Homo sapiens: one gene and its partner. The protein of the gene in region 1 purifies or fractionates together with the protein of each later gene. This does not show direct contact. Each region holds a gene or a part of one and is shown in the gene's direction. Other genes may lie near its edges. The genes, in order: NINL and NKAP.

Region 1 (4,623 bases):
GGTTAATTTTTTGTATTTTTGGTAGAGACGGGATTTCACCATGCTGGCCAGGCTGGTCCTGAACTCCTGACCTCAGGTGATCTACCCGCCTTGGCCTCCCAAAGTGCTGGGATTACAGGTGTAAACCACCTCACTAGGCCACTAATTTCCATTTTAAAATAAATAGCCTTGAGCTGATTCTTTTTAAAATGTAAAATATTGCCTGTAACCTTTTTGTTTTTGTTTTTTGTGTTTTTTTTTTGAGACGGAGTCTTGCTCTGTCACCCAGACTGGAGTGCAATGGCACAATCTTGGCTCACTGCAACCTCCGCCTCCTGGGTTCAAGCAATTATTCTGCCTCGGCCTCCCGAGTAGCTGGGACTACAGGCGCCCGCTACCATGCCCGGCTGATTTTTTGTATTTTAGTAGAGATAGGGTTTCACTGTGCTGCCCAGGCTGGTCTCGAACTCCTGAGCTCAGGTAATCCGCCCGCCTCAGACTCCCAAAGTGCTAGGATTACAGTTGTGAACCACTGCACCTGGCTTTTTTTTTTTTTTTTTTTTTTTTTGAGATGGAGTCTCACTCTGTCACCAGGCTGGAATGCAGTGGTGCTATTTCGGCTCACAGCAACCTCTGCCTCTTGGGTTCAAGTGATTCTCCTGCCTCAGCCTCCCAAGTAGCTGGGACTACAGGTGCACGCTACCACGCCCAGCTAATTTTTCTTTTTTTTTTGAGACTGAGTCTTGCTCTGTCACCTAGGCTGGAGTGCCACTGCAACCTCCACCTCCTGGGTTCAAGTGATTCTCCTGCCTCAGCCTCCCAAGTAGCTGGGATTACAGGTACGCACCACCACACACGGCTAATTTTTCTATTTTTTTTAGTAGAGATGGGGTTTCACCATGTTGGCCAGGTTGGTCTCAAACTCCTGACCTCAGGTGATCCGCCCGCCTCGGCCTCCCAAAGTGCTGGGATTAGAGGCGTGAGCCACCATGCCCGGCCACCTGCAACCTTCTTTTATGGCAGGAAGAACATGAGAAACAGCTGAAAGCCACAGAAGAGCGGGTGGAAGAGGCGGAGATGATTCTGAAGAATATGGAAATGCTCCTCCAAGAGAAAGTGGATAAGCTGAAGGAGCAGGTGAGTGATGGGCGCTGCTGCTTTCGTGTTCACGTCCTCTTCTGAACGCTCTCCACTTTTATGGGTGTGCAGGTAGCTAATACAGGAAAAGGCTGTCTTGTCACAGAATTCCAGGGAACTAAATGTATACCCTACACTGCAGGTGCACATTCATTTATTTTCCTCCGGGAATGGTTTTAAGATCTGTCCTTTGGGTGTTCACATACACTCAGAAAGGACTCATCCGTTCATTTGTTCATGTAGTCATTCAGGCATCCCCAAGCACCTCTGGTCTAAGCTTTCCCAGGTAGACCTGAGATGAGCAGGGCTGAGCCTGCATCCCAGACCTGACCCTCTGGAGACAGAGGCAGATGCTTCCATAGAGCATACATGACCTCGGGCCATGATGAGTGCTCTGAAAATGAGAGAATAGAGGTGGAAGGAGCCGGTGGGGTGGTCAAGGCCACTTTGAAGAGCCAGCATTTGGTCAGATGCCCAGTGACCAGCACAGGAACGTCCAGCTGTGTCCCCAGCAGAGGCCAGGTGGCATTTGGAAGGCTCAGTGGGTGGGAGATGCACACATCTCCTCGTGTCTGGGGGACTCCGAGGAGGGTGCATTCCAGGCAGCGGACAGCCATGGAGGAGGCCGCCATGGCTGGTGTGAACTGGTAGGGCTCAGGTAGGCAGTGCCTGTCGTGTGTATCCTAGAAGCCAAGGTCAGGGGTTTGGGTTTTATCATAATGGCAGTTAGAAGGCATAGGGAGATTTTAAGTAAAAGCATGACAGGATCTATCTTTTAAAAGAAACCATACTAGGGAAAAAGTCACTTGGGCTACTGTAAGGAGCAAAGACCAAAAATGAGGTGCCATAACTCACCTGGTCTGTAGATGTTCGAAGTCCAACTCAGCAGGTGGGAACTGACGTGCAGCAGTGCTGTGCCCTGAGGGCTGATGGCACAGGGTGTGGGTGGACCCCACGGGTGTGGGGTGCACACACAGAAGAGGCCCGGCCACGGACCACATTCAGTGTTAGGATTAAGAGAAATATGAAAACCTGGAGAAGTATTTTTGCTCCATCGTGATCCAGTATGGTTTGGTCTACATGAGGGATCCTGAGCTCAGCCCAAGCTAGACAAGGCATTTGTGGAAGGTTCCCAGTCCCTCCCTGGGGCCACCCGTCCTTGCCCAGCTTCCTCCCCTACTGGTGCCCCCGGTCCCTCTCACCCTTTCTCCCTGGCACACACCCACAGTCCTCAGTTGCCCGTCTCGCCAGCAACACCTGACTTCTGGTTCAATCCTGTGGCTCCTGCATACCTGCCCTGGCCCTGAGCACAGGCCACAGCCCAGGGCCTCAGTACTGCCTGTCCTGCGCCTGCTCCCTCCCCTGCTTCTCTTGGCTCCTGGCCTTGCTGACATCACAGCCAGTAGCGCATACGCAGATGAACCTGTTCCACACTCTGACCGTCCCAGGGCCTTTTGAGGACTGGCCACTTTTGCCTGAAGTCCTTGTTTCACGGCACAAAGCTGCCTCAAGTTTTCTCCATCACATAGCCCAGCAGATTCTCAATTTCCTCTCATGCCAGGGTAACAAAACTTGTCATTATAATCCAGTATTTGTGTCAGATTTCTTTTTTTTTTGGAGACAGAGTCTTGCTCTGTCGCCTAGGCTGGATGGAGTGCAGTGGTGCGATCTCTGCTCACTGCAAGCTCCACCTCCCGGGTTCACACCATTCTCCTGCCTCAGCCTCCCGGGTAGCTGGGACTACAGGCGCCCGCCACCACGCCCAGCTAATTTTTTTGTATTTTTTAGTAGAGATGGGGTTTCACCGTGTTCGCCAGGATGGTCTCGATCTCCTGACCTTGGGATCTGCCCACCTCAGCCTCCCAAAGTGCTGGGATTACAGGCGTGAACCACTGCCCCCGGCCTTGGGTCAGATTTCTAAGAGCCCAAAACTGTGGTTTGCGTAAACCTGGGAGGATAAAAGAGAGCAGGCTGATCTGTAGCGTTTCTCCACCGGCCTCATGCAAAGCATGGCTTCCTCCCCTCTCTAGTTTGAAAAGAACACGAAGTCCGACCTGCTGCTGAAGGAGCTGTACGTGGAGAACGCCCACCTGGTGAGAGCACTTCAGGCCACCGAGGAGAAGCAGCGAGGCGCCGAGAAACAAAGCCGCCTCTTGGAAGAAAAAGTTCGCGCTCTCAACAAACTCGTCAGTAGGATTGCCCCCGCAGCCCTCTCTGTGTAAAGACAGATTATTTTCTAGGATTCATTCGAAAGCACATCTTTTAAATTAAGCCACTGTGCTGCCTTAGATTCCGTGGGTCATGAGCCATGAGTCCTGGGACATCTGAGGATTGGGATTCTTTGTTCACCCCGCAGATAGTTAATGAATGGTCTGCCCTGGGCAAGATGGAGGTGGGGGCTGGGGGAATATGCATGTTGCAGAAGCCGGCGTTTTTATTAGCGGTCCTGAGTAATTTCCCTTGGCAAAATTCCCAGTTTTGCCACTCTCTGGAGCCAGATCCTGGGAGCTGTCAGCAAGGAGCAGGTAAGTGAGCAGTTATGGACAGCACTTTCCATGTGGTGCTTCCGACCCTGGCTGTCAGAGTGAAATGTAAAGTCAGGGCTCTGTACAGTTTTGCCATTTCACTGTTCTGCTTTAAGCTTAGCTTATTAGAACTCTTGGTGGAGGGTGCGTACACACATTCCAGAAAAGGCTTCACTCGCTGGGAACGTCAACCCAGCGAGAAAGGAGGGGAAGCCCCTTCTCCGGGGACCTTATCTGTGGACTCAGGAATGATGGTGTTTATTGCAAATGCACAATCTTTTTCCCATTGAAATGTCATCACACTGGAAATTGTACTATATGTAAAAAAAAAAAAAAGTATAGTTTTATATTTGAAATGTATGCAAATTATGGCCATATGGCTGATTGGAATGTACTACTGTAATATAAAAAGTCACTGTATTTGCAATAAATTCTTTTCTATTAAAATTGACTTCTAAGTTTGTTTTTAATTTTTTAAACTATAAAATATTTCAAACATAGAGGAAAATAGTTATGTAAGAAACACCCATGTGCCCATCAACATATCTAGTAAGAATAATATCCTGCCACAGCACTGTGGAGGGCGGGAGCCTGTTCTGTTCTCAGCCTCCTCCCTCTTCCCGGGGCAGCCGCCATCCCAAAGCTGGCATGTCTTCTCCTTTCTGCAGGAGAAAAATGTCACAGCACCGTGGAAAGATAACAAAGCCTGGAACAGATGGAAAGGTCGGTTCTTTGGAAGATTCGGCAACATGAAGTTGACTGGTTCTTCAAAGTTTACTGATGATAAATGTAATTAATCCCAATATAAATACAGATGTTACATGCCCCAATCAACCCCAGAATTGGACAAGACATTCTAAAGTTTTTACATACAACTAAATAAGCAAACAAAACAATTAGGAAAACTCTGAAGAAAGAAGAGCAATGTATGGGGACTAGTTCTACCAGTTATTAATATGTAAGTCCTAATACAGTTTATGTT
Region 2 (7,684 bases), on another chromosome or scaffold:
GCAGTCTCTAAAACAATTGTTGGCATAATTGGAAAGCATCCTCAAATTCAAATGGACACAAACTACAAGAGTCCCCCTAACACCCACTCCTTAAATTCCATTTCCACAACCCAGATCCCTGCCTCAGTCCGCTGGGTGTTAGCCATGCACCTGCCCAGACAGCTGCAGAGTCTCAGACTTTGAAGAGGAGTAGTGAATGGAAGCTGAATACCTCCATATCCCATAACACACAAATGGTTTAATTCCTGTAGAGAATGGATCAGGTCAGGTGAGGTGGCTCACGCCTGTGATCCCAGCACTTTGGGAGGCCGAGGTGGGCGGATCACTTGAGCTCAGGGGTTCCAGACCCACCTGGGCAACATGGCGAAACCTTGTCTCTACCAAAAATGTCAAAACTTAGCCAGGCATGGTGGTATGCGCCTGTTGTCCCCGCTACTCGGGAGGCTGAGGTGGGAAGATCGCTTGAACCCAGGAGGCGGAGGTTGCAGTGAGCCAAGATAGTGCCACTGCACTTTAGCCTGGGTGACAGAGTGAGACCCCCATCTCAAAAAAAAAAAATTTAAAGAAGAATAGGCCAGGCGCGGTGGCTCATGCCTGTAATCCCAGCACTTTGGGAGGGTGAGGCAGGCGGATCATGAGGTCAGGAGTTCAAGACCAGCCTGGCCAACACAGTGAAATCCTGTCTCTACTAAAAATACAAAAATTAGCTGGGCATGGTGGCGCATGCCTGAAGTCCCAGCTACTTGGGAGGCTGAGGCAGGAGAATCACTTGAACCTGGGAGGCAGAGGTTGCCCAGGCTGGAGTGCAGTGGCAGGACCCAAACTCTGCAAGCCTGATCCCACTGGCTGTCTGCACCTCCCTGTGTGCTCTAGCTCCCCCTCACTGCCAACTCATGAAACACAGGCTGCTCCCAGGATACCTGGCAAGAAGAGCACCATGCCATTCAGATGTGCAGGAGTAGGGGTTTTCTCTTTCCAACTAAAGTACATGTCCACCAGCCATGGGGCAGGTAGACCAATCACTGTTGCAGAGTTGGTTTTATAGGCAACTGATGTGAAGGTGTACTGCCTGTTGTCGCAAAAGTTAGGCAGTAGGTTTTCCATTGAAAACTTTCTTATTAGAAATTCTCCCCAATCTCCATCCCAAATCACAGAATTTCTCTTACTCGATTAAGTTTTTGGACCTGGCCCCATGACAAATTAGTTATACATAGAAGATATCCAATAGTGTGGTCCACTCTTTCCATTTAACATTATTTCATACGTCTTTCCCTTAAATTCCAAAAAAAGGAGATTTCTGATAATCAATTGGCATTAATTTTCATGATCTGATAAATTACTTCTTAGGAAAATCCCAGAGGCCATCATGCTACTGGCAGGCTGGACTTGGAATTTCTTCAGCAAACCTATGTACCTTCAAAAATCCAAATTGAGGGCTGTGCATGGAGGCTCACGCCTGTGATCCCAGTACTTTAGGAAGCGGAGGCCGGCAGATCATTGGAGGTCAGGAGTTTGAGACCAGCCTGGCTTACAGGGTAAAACCCAGTCTCTACCAAAAATACAAAAATTACCTGGGCATGGTGGTGGGCACCTGTAATCCCAGCTACTTGGGAGGCTGAGGCATGAGGACTGCTTGAACCCAGGAGGCAGAGGTTGCAGTGAGCCAAGATCCTGCCACTGCACTCCAGCCTGGGCAACAGAGCAAGACTCTGTCTCAAAAAAAAAAGTCGAAATCAGTAGAATTAATGTTGGAATGCCCTTTGATTTAAAAACAGTAGAGGCCTAGGTGCAGTGGTTCAAGCCTGTAATGACAGCACATTGAGATGCCGAGGTGTGAGGATCACTTGAGTCCATGAGTTCAAGACCAGCTTGGGCAACATGGCAAAACCCCATGTCTACAAAAAATTTAAAAATTAGCGAACCATGGCACATGCCAGCTACTCAGGAGGCTGAGGTGGGAGGATCCCTTGAACTCAGGAGGTGGAGGTTGCAGTGAGCCAAGATCACACCACTGCACTCCAGTCTGGGTGAGGGAGCCAGACACTGTTTCACAAAAGAAAAAAGAAAAGAAAAACAGTATAAAATGAATAGAAATGCTGGGCGTGGTGGCTCACGCCTGTAATCCCAGCACTTTGAGAGGCTGAGGCGGGCGGATCACAAGGTCAAGAGATCAAGACCATCCTGGCCAACATGGTGAAACTCTGTCTCTACTAAAACTACAAAAATTAGCTGGGCATGGTGGCACGCCCCTGTAATCCCAGCTACTCAGGAGGCTGAGGCAGGAAAATAGCTTGAACCCTAGAGGCAGAGATTGCAGTGAGCCAAGATCACGCCACTGCACTCCAGCCTGCTTACAGAGCGAGACTCCATGTAAAAAAAAAAAAAAAAAAAAAAAAAGAATAGGAATACTGATCCTTAACTCTATATTGCTGGGCTGGCATACAATGAGACTAGTTTAAGGAGCTGGACAAAGAGGGGATTACAAATTCCTTTTGCTGGATAGATAATAGAGGCTGGGTAGGGTATGTGGGAGGAAGCAGAAGGATGAAGAGAAATAGGTTAAAGGGTACAAACATACAGTAAGATAGAAGAAATAAATTCAATGGTTTTTGTTGTTGTTTTAAGACAGTGTCTCACTCTGTCGCCCATGGAGTGCAGTGGATCAATCACGGCTCACTGCAACTTCGATTTCCGGGCTCAAGTAAGTGTTCCTCCCACCTCAGTCTCCTGAGTAGCTGGCATGCACCACCACACTCGCCAAATTTTTAAATTTTTTGTAGAGACAGGGTCTCCCTATGTTTCCCAGGCTGGTCTCCAACTCCTGGGCTCAAGTGATTGGCCCGCCTCGGCCTCCCAAATTTCTGGAGTTACAGGTGTAAGTCACCATGCCCAGCCCCAAATTCAATGTTTGATATTGACAGCATGGTAGAGTGAGAGTACACTATTTTTTTTTGGAAACACAGTCTCACTCTGTTGCCCAGGCTGGAGTGCAGTGGTGCAATCTCACTCTCGGCTCACTGCAACCTCAGCCTCCCGGGTTCAAGCGATTCTCGTGCCTCAGCCACCCTAGTAGCTGAGATTACAGGCACGTGCCACCAGGCCCAGCTAATTTTTGTATTTTTAGTGGAGACAGGGTTTCGCCATGTTGGCCAGGCTGGTCTCAAACTCCTGACCTCAAGTGATCCACCCGCCTCTGCCTCCCAAAGTGCTGGGATTACAGACGTGAGCCACCATACCAGGCCGAGAGTACACTTAACAAAAATGTATTGTGCTCAGATAATGGACACCTTAAATACCCTGACGTCATCACTACACATTATATACATGTAACAAAATTTCACATGTATCCCATAGATTTGTACAAATTTAAAAAATAATAAAAAATTAGCTGTGCATGATGGCACATGTCTGTAATCCCAGCTACTCAGGAGGCTGAGGCAGGAGAATCACTTGAACCTGGGAGGCGGAGGTTGCAGTGAGCCAGGATAGCCACTGCACTCCAGCCTGGATGACAGAGGGAGCCCTTGTCTCAAAAATAAAAAAATAAAAAATAAAATGACACTTTTTGGGGAAAAAAATACAAGCCAGACGCAGTGGCTCACACCTATAATCCTAGCACTTTGGGAGGCCGAGGCTGGCGGATCGCTTGAGCCCAGGAGTTCAAGACCACCTGGGCAACAAGGTGAAACCCTGTTTCCCCCGACCCCCCTCAAAAAAAAAACTACCCAGGCTTGGTGTCGCATGCGCCTGTAATCCCAGCTATTCAGGAGGCTGAGGTGGGAGGATAGCTTGAGCCCGGGGAGGCGGAGGTTTGCAGGGAGCTGAGATCTTGCCACTGTACTCCATCCTGGGCGACAGAGTGAGCAGAGTGAGTTCCAGTCTCAAAAAAAAAAAACCTCCTTTTGCTGGGGCATATTGGTGGAGACGGTGGCTAGGGGATAAGTATGCAGTTTTTCTCTAGGCGGGAAACTTAATTGAAGTTTATCAGGCGCGAGTCATTAACAAAATTTGCGCCCTCTAAGCTAACACGGCAATATGGGGCTTAGACACCATAGCTAATCCCCAGTCGCGAAAAACCCTCCCGATTTGCTTGGGATTGGAAAGAAAAAGAAAATACACATTCATACTTTCATACATGACATACACACACACACACACATTTATATATAAATACACACAGAAAGCACAGGAAACACAAGCAGAATTAACTGTCTTGTTCATACGGCCACTCAGTGAAATGTATACTGTATATTGTGTTTGAAATATATACTTCCCTTCAAGTGTTTCAAGTTCAAGGCTGAGAAAGAACTTGGTCTCTTGCTTAGACTTGAGGAGCCTCACTCGGAACTGGAAGGATGCACGCAATCTAGTTGCCCCACCGGCTTATTTATATTGATGCACACATCGCTTCCTGTCGGTGACGACCGCCTAGATCCGGGGAAGGGTTTTGCAGAAGTACCCAGAACTGTGTCCAAGGTTTCCTCAGATTTGGGCTGTTCCGCAGCGGCAGGTCCCGGGAACCAAGGCAACAGACATCTTCCTAGGCTCGCGAGAGCGCCCCCTTGTCCCACGGCTGCTGGGGCCCCCCAGTAGCCATGGCTCCGGTGTCCGGCTCACGCAGCCCGGATAGGGAGGCCTCGGGCTCGGGGGGAAGACGTCGCAGTTCGTCGAAGAGTCCGAAGCCCAGCAAATCTGCCCGCTCCCCGCGGGGCCGCCGCTCTCGCTCGCACTCTTGCTCTCGGTCCGGGGACCGGAATGGACTCACCCATCAGCTGGGTGGCCTCAGCCAAGGCTCCCGAAACCAGTCCTACCGCTCACGCTCGCGGTCGCGTTCTAGAGAGCGGCCCTCTGCGCCCCGGGGCATCCCCTTCGCTTCTGCCTCCTCGTCAGTCTATTACGGCAGCTACTCGCGCCCCTACGGGAGCGACAAGCCTTGGCCTAGCCTCCTCGACAAGGAGAGGGAGGAGAGCCTGCGGCAGAAGTGAGTGAGACGGCCGCACTTTCTCTTGTACGAGCCTACGTGCCTTTGGAGTCCGATCTATCATTCATTCCGCTTCTGACTATTCGCATTTCGCTCACTCTGCTTGCCTTGCGCCCATTTTCATCCCTTTCTTTAATCCACCCACGACAACCCTTTATTCGTCCTTTTCATTTTCCCTTACCCTCAGGCCCCTTCATATAGTGCCCTGGTCTCCCGCTACCCCCTTCCGCCTCCTGTCTTGTTAGCGAATATTGCCGAGAGTTCAGACCTACCAGAACTGTAGCATTTACCTGGTTGTGTCATTATCATTCGTGAATATATTTGTATTCCCCACTAGACTGAGCTCATGGAAAGGAGGAGCCAGTGAACGGAGGAGAATTCTGATCACAGAATTCTAAGTGCCTGGTACTTTATAGGCGCTCAACCATTGCTTGTTGAATGAAGGAACTTACAGGTCTGAGATAACAGGATATTTATGTAGAAACGTTTTGTGGGGAATTAGGAAGGAATGAAATCAAGGGTTTAAGTTGGAGAGGAAATAAACCTTCCCCTCAGACAAGACGATTAGATGCATGTAGGAAAAGTGATCTGATAAGCTATAGATGACCCCACTTTGAGGAAGGTCTTGTTAAGTGGTCTCAGTCTTGACCTCGAAAAATGACGCCAGGATGAGACTAGATCTCTAATCAAAGTGAGTATTGGAGTGGAAAAATGCATAGCTTGGGGATTGTTTTGTTTTGTTTTTGAGACAGGGTCTAGCTCTGTCGCCCAGGTTGGAGTGCAGTGGTGCAATCTTGGCTCACTGCAGCCTCCACCTTCTTGGGCTCAAGTGATCCTCCCACCTCAGCCTCCCTCATAGCTGGGACTATAGGTGCGCACCACCACACCCGGCTTATTTTCGTATTTTTTGGTAGAGACAGGGTTTCACCATGTTGCCCAGGCTGGTATCGAATTTCTGGGCTCAAGTGATCCTCCCACGTTGGCCTCCGGAAGTGCTGAGATTACAGGTATGACCCCACATGCCCTGCCGAGCCTGTCCTTTTCATCACTATACTTTATTACCTCCCACTGCCGGAAGAAAAAGACTCAAGACATCTCCCAACTGTTGGAACTTTAACCTACCTCTCAATGCCTGTAATATTTCTAAGTTTCTCATTTTTTTAAACATATAAGTGCACGTAAATAACTTAGTACAGTGCCTGACACATAATTTAACAATAAACAAGATATTAAGACTTACACAGCAATAATTATGAGCCTTTTCCTTTCTCCTTAAAACTATGCATTTTTTGGCTGGGCACAGAGGCTCATGCCTGTAATCCCAACACTTTAGGAGGCCAAGGCAGGAGGATCACTTGAATCCAGGAGTTCAAGACCAGCCTAGGCAATATAGGGATACCCTGTCTCTACAAAAAGTGTTTTAAAAATCAGCTGGGCGTGGTGGCATGTGCTTGTAATTTCAGGTACTGGGGATGCTGAAGTGGGAGGATCACTTGAGCTGGAGAGGTCAAGGCTGCCATGAGCCATGATCTCACCACTGCACTCCAGCTTGGGTGACAGAGGGAGATGCTGTCTCAAAAACAAACAAACAAAAAAAAACAAAGAGAAGAACAGGAAGAAAGAAAGGAAAAGGACAAACTCCAGAATCAGACTGAGTATGAAGCCTTTATTTGCCACTTAATAGCTGTGTGACCTTGGTCAAGTTACTTAACCTCTCTGGGCTCCATTTCTTCATCATTAAAAGGGGGATAAAATAAGTACTATGGATTAAAAAGGGGATAAAATAAGTACTAGGGATTTGGGGATTGTAATAATTAAGTGGCTGGAACATAACTATTCCATAAGTGTTAGCTATTAATGTTTCATGCATGGGAGCAAAAACAGTAAAAACAGTCCTGAGTTAGGTTGGAGACCCATCTCTCCAAGTTACATTTTTCAGAAACATACCCACAGGCTATGTCAGTCAAAAAGTAAATAGTTTCTTCTTGGAGAATCCTCACCAAAAGATGTCAGAAGTGCTTGGATGAAACTTGCATATGTACATTTAGAAAATAAATAATTTATCTTTTTTTTTTTTTTTGAGATGGAGTCTCACTCTGTCTCCCAGGCTGGAATGCAGTGGTGCAGTCTCGGCTCACTGCAGCCTCCACCTCCTGGGTTCAAGTGGTTCTTCTGCCTCAATCTCCTGAATAGCTGGGATTACAGGTATGCACCACCACACCCAGCTAATTTTTGTGTTTTTAGTAGAGACGGGGTTTCGCCATGTTGGCCAGGCTGGTCTCGAACTCCTGACCTCAGGTGATCCACCAGCCTCAGCCTCCCAAAGTGCTGGGCCCGGCCAATAATTTATCTTAACATTACAGATGAAACCAGGTGACAACAGGACTTCCTGCTATTTACAGCCTGGTAGGCGTTCTTCCCCCGATATCCATACATTCCAAGTACAGCTATAAATATGTTACCTTTTAAATTGTCTGTTACTTCAGGTGGGAAACCCTCTCAGTCTGACTCTGCATAGTTATAATACCTTTTCCCCTGATTAAGGAGGCAAAAACGATTTATACAAAAACTCATTGCAATTATATTTATTTTGGAAGGATTTTTAAAAACAAATGGAGTCACAAGCAGCTAAAATTTGAGAGAATGAGCCTTAGTCTTTGTTTTGTTTTGTTTTTTAGTTTATGAGGAATAACAAAAATTAAA

Evidence for each region.
Region 2: the proteins of NINL (region 1) and NKAP purify together in Homo sapiens (affinity purification with mass spectrometry; 2 studies listed by BioGRID and IntAct, with this or other methods). This does not show direct contact.

What each region holds. Positions count from the first base shown.
Region 1 is NC_000020.11:25,452,166-25,456,788, reverse strand, and holds the end of NINL (ninein-like protein), read left to right. Parts: intron 1-1,002; coding exon 1,003-1,116; intron 1,117-3,146; coding exon 3,147-3,338; 3' UTR 3,339-4,092; downstream 4,093-4,623. UniProt on the Homo sapiens protein: Involved in the microtubule organization in interphase cells. Overexpression induces the fragmentation of the Golgi, and causes lysosomes to disperse toward the cell periphery; it also interferes with mitotic spindle assembly.
Region 2 is NC_000023.11:119,940,517-119,948,200, reverse strand, and holds the start of NKAP (NF-kappa-B-activating protein), read left to right. Parts: upstream 1-4,449; 5' UTR 4,450-4,595; coding exon 4,596-4,981; intron 4,982-7,684. UniProt on the Homo sapiens protein: Acts as a transcriptional repressor. Plays a role as a transcriptional corepressor of the Notch-mediated signaling required for T-cell development. Also involved in the TNF and IL-1 induced NF-kappa-B activation.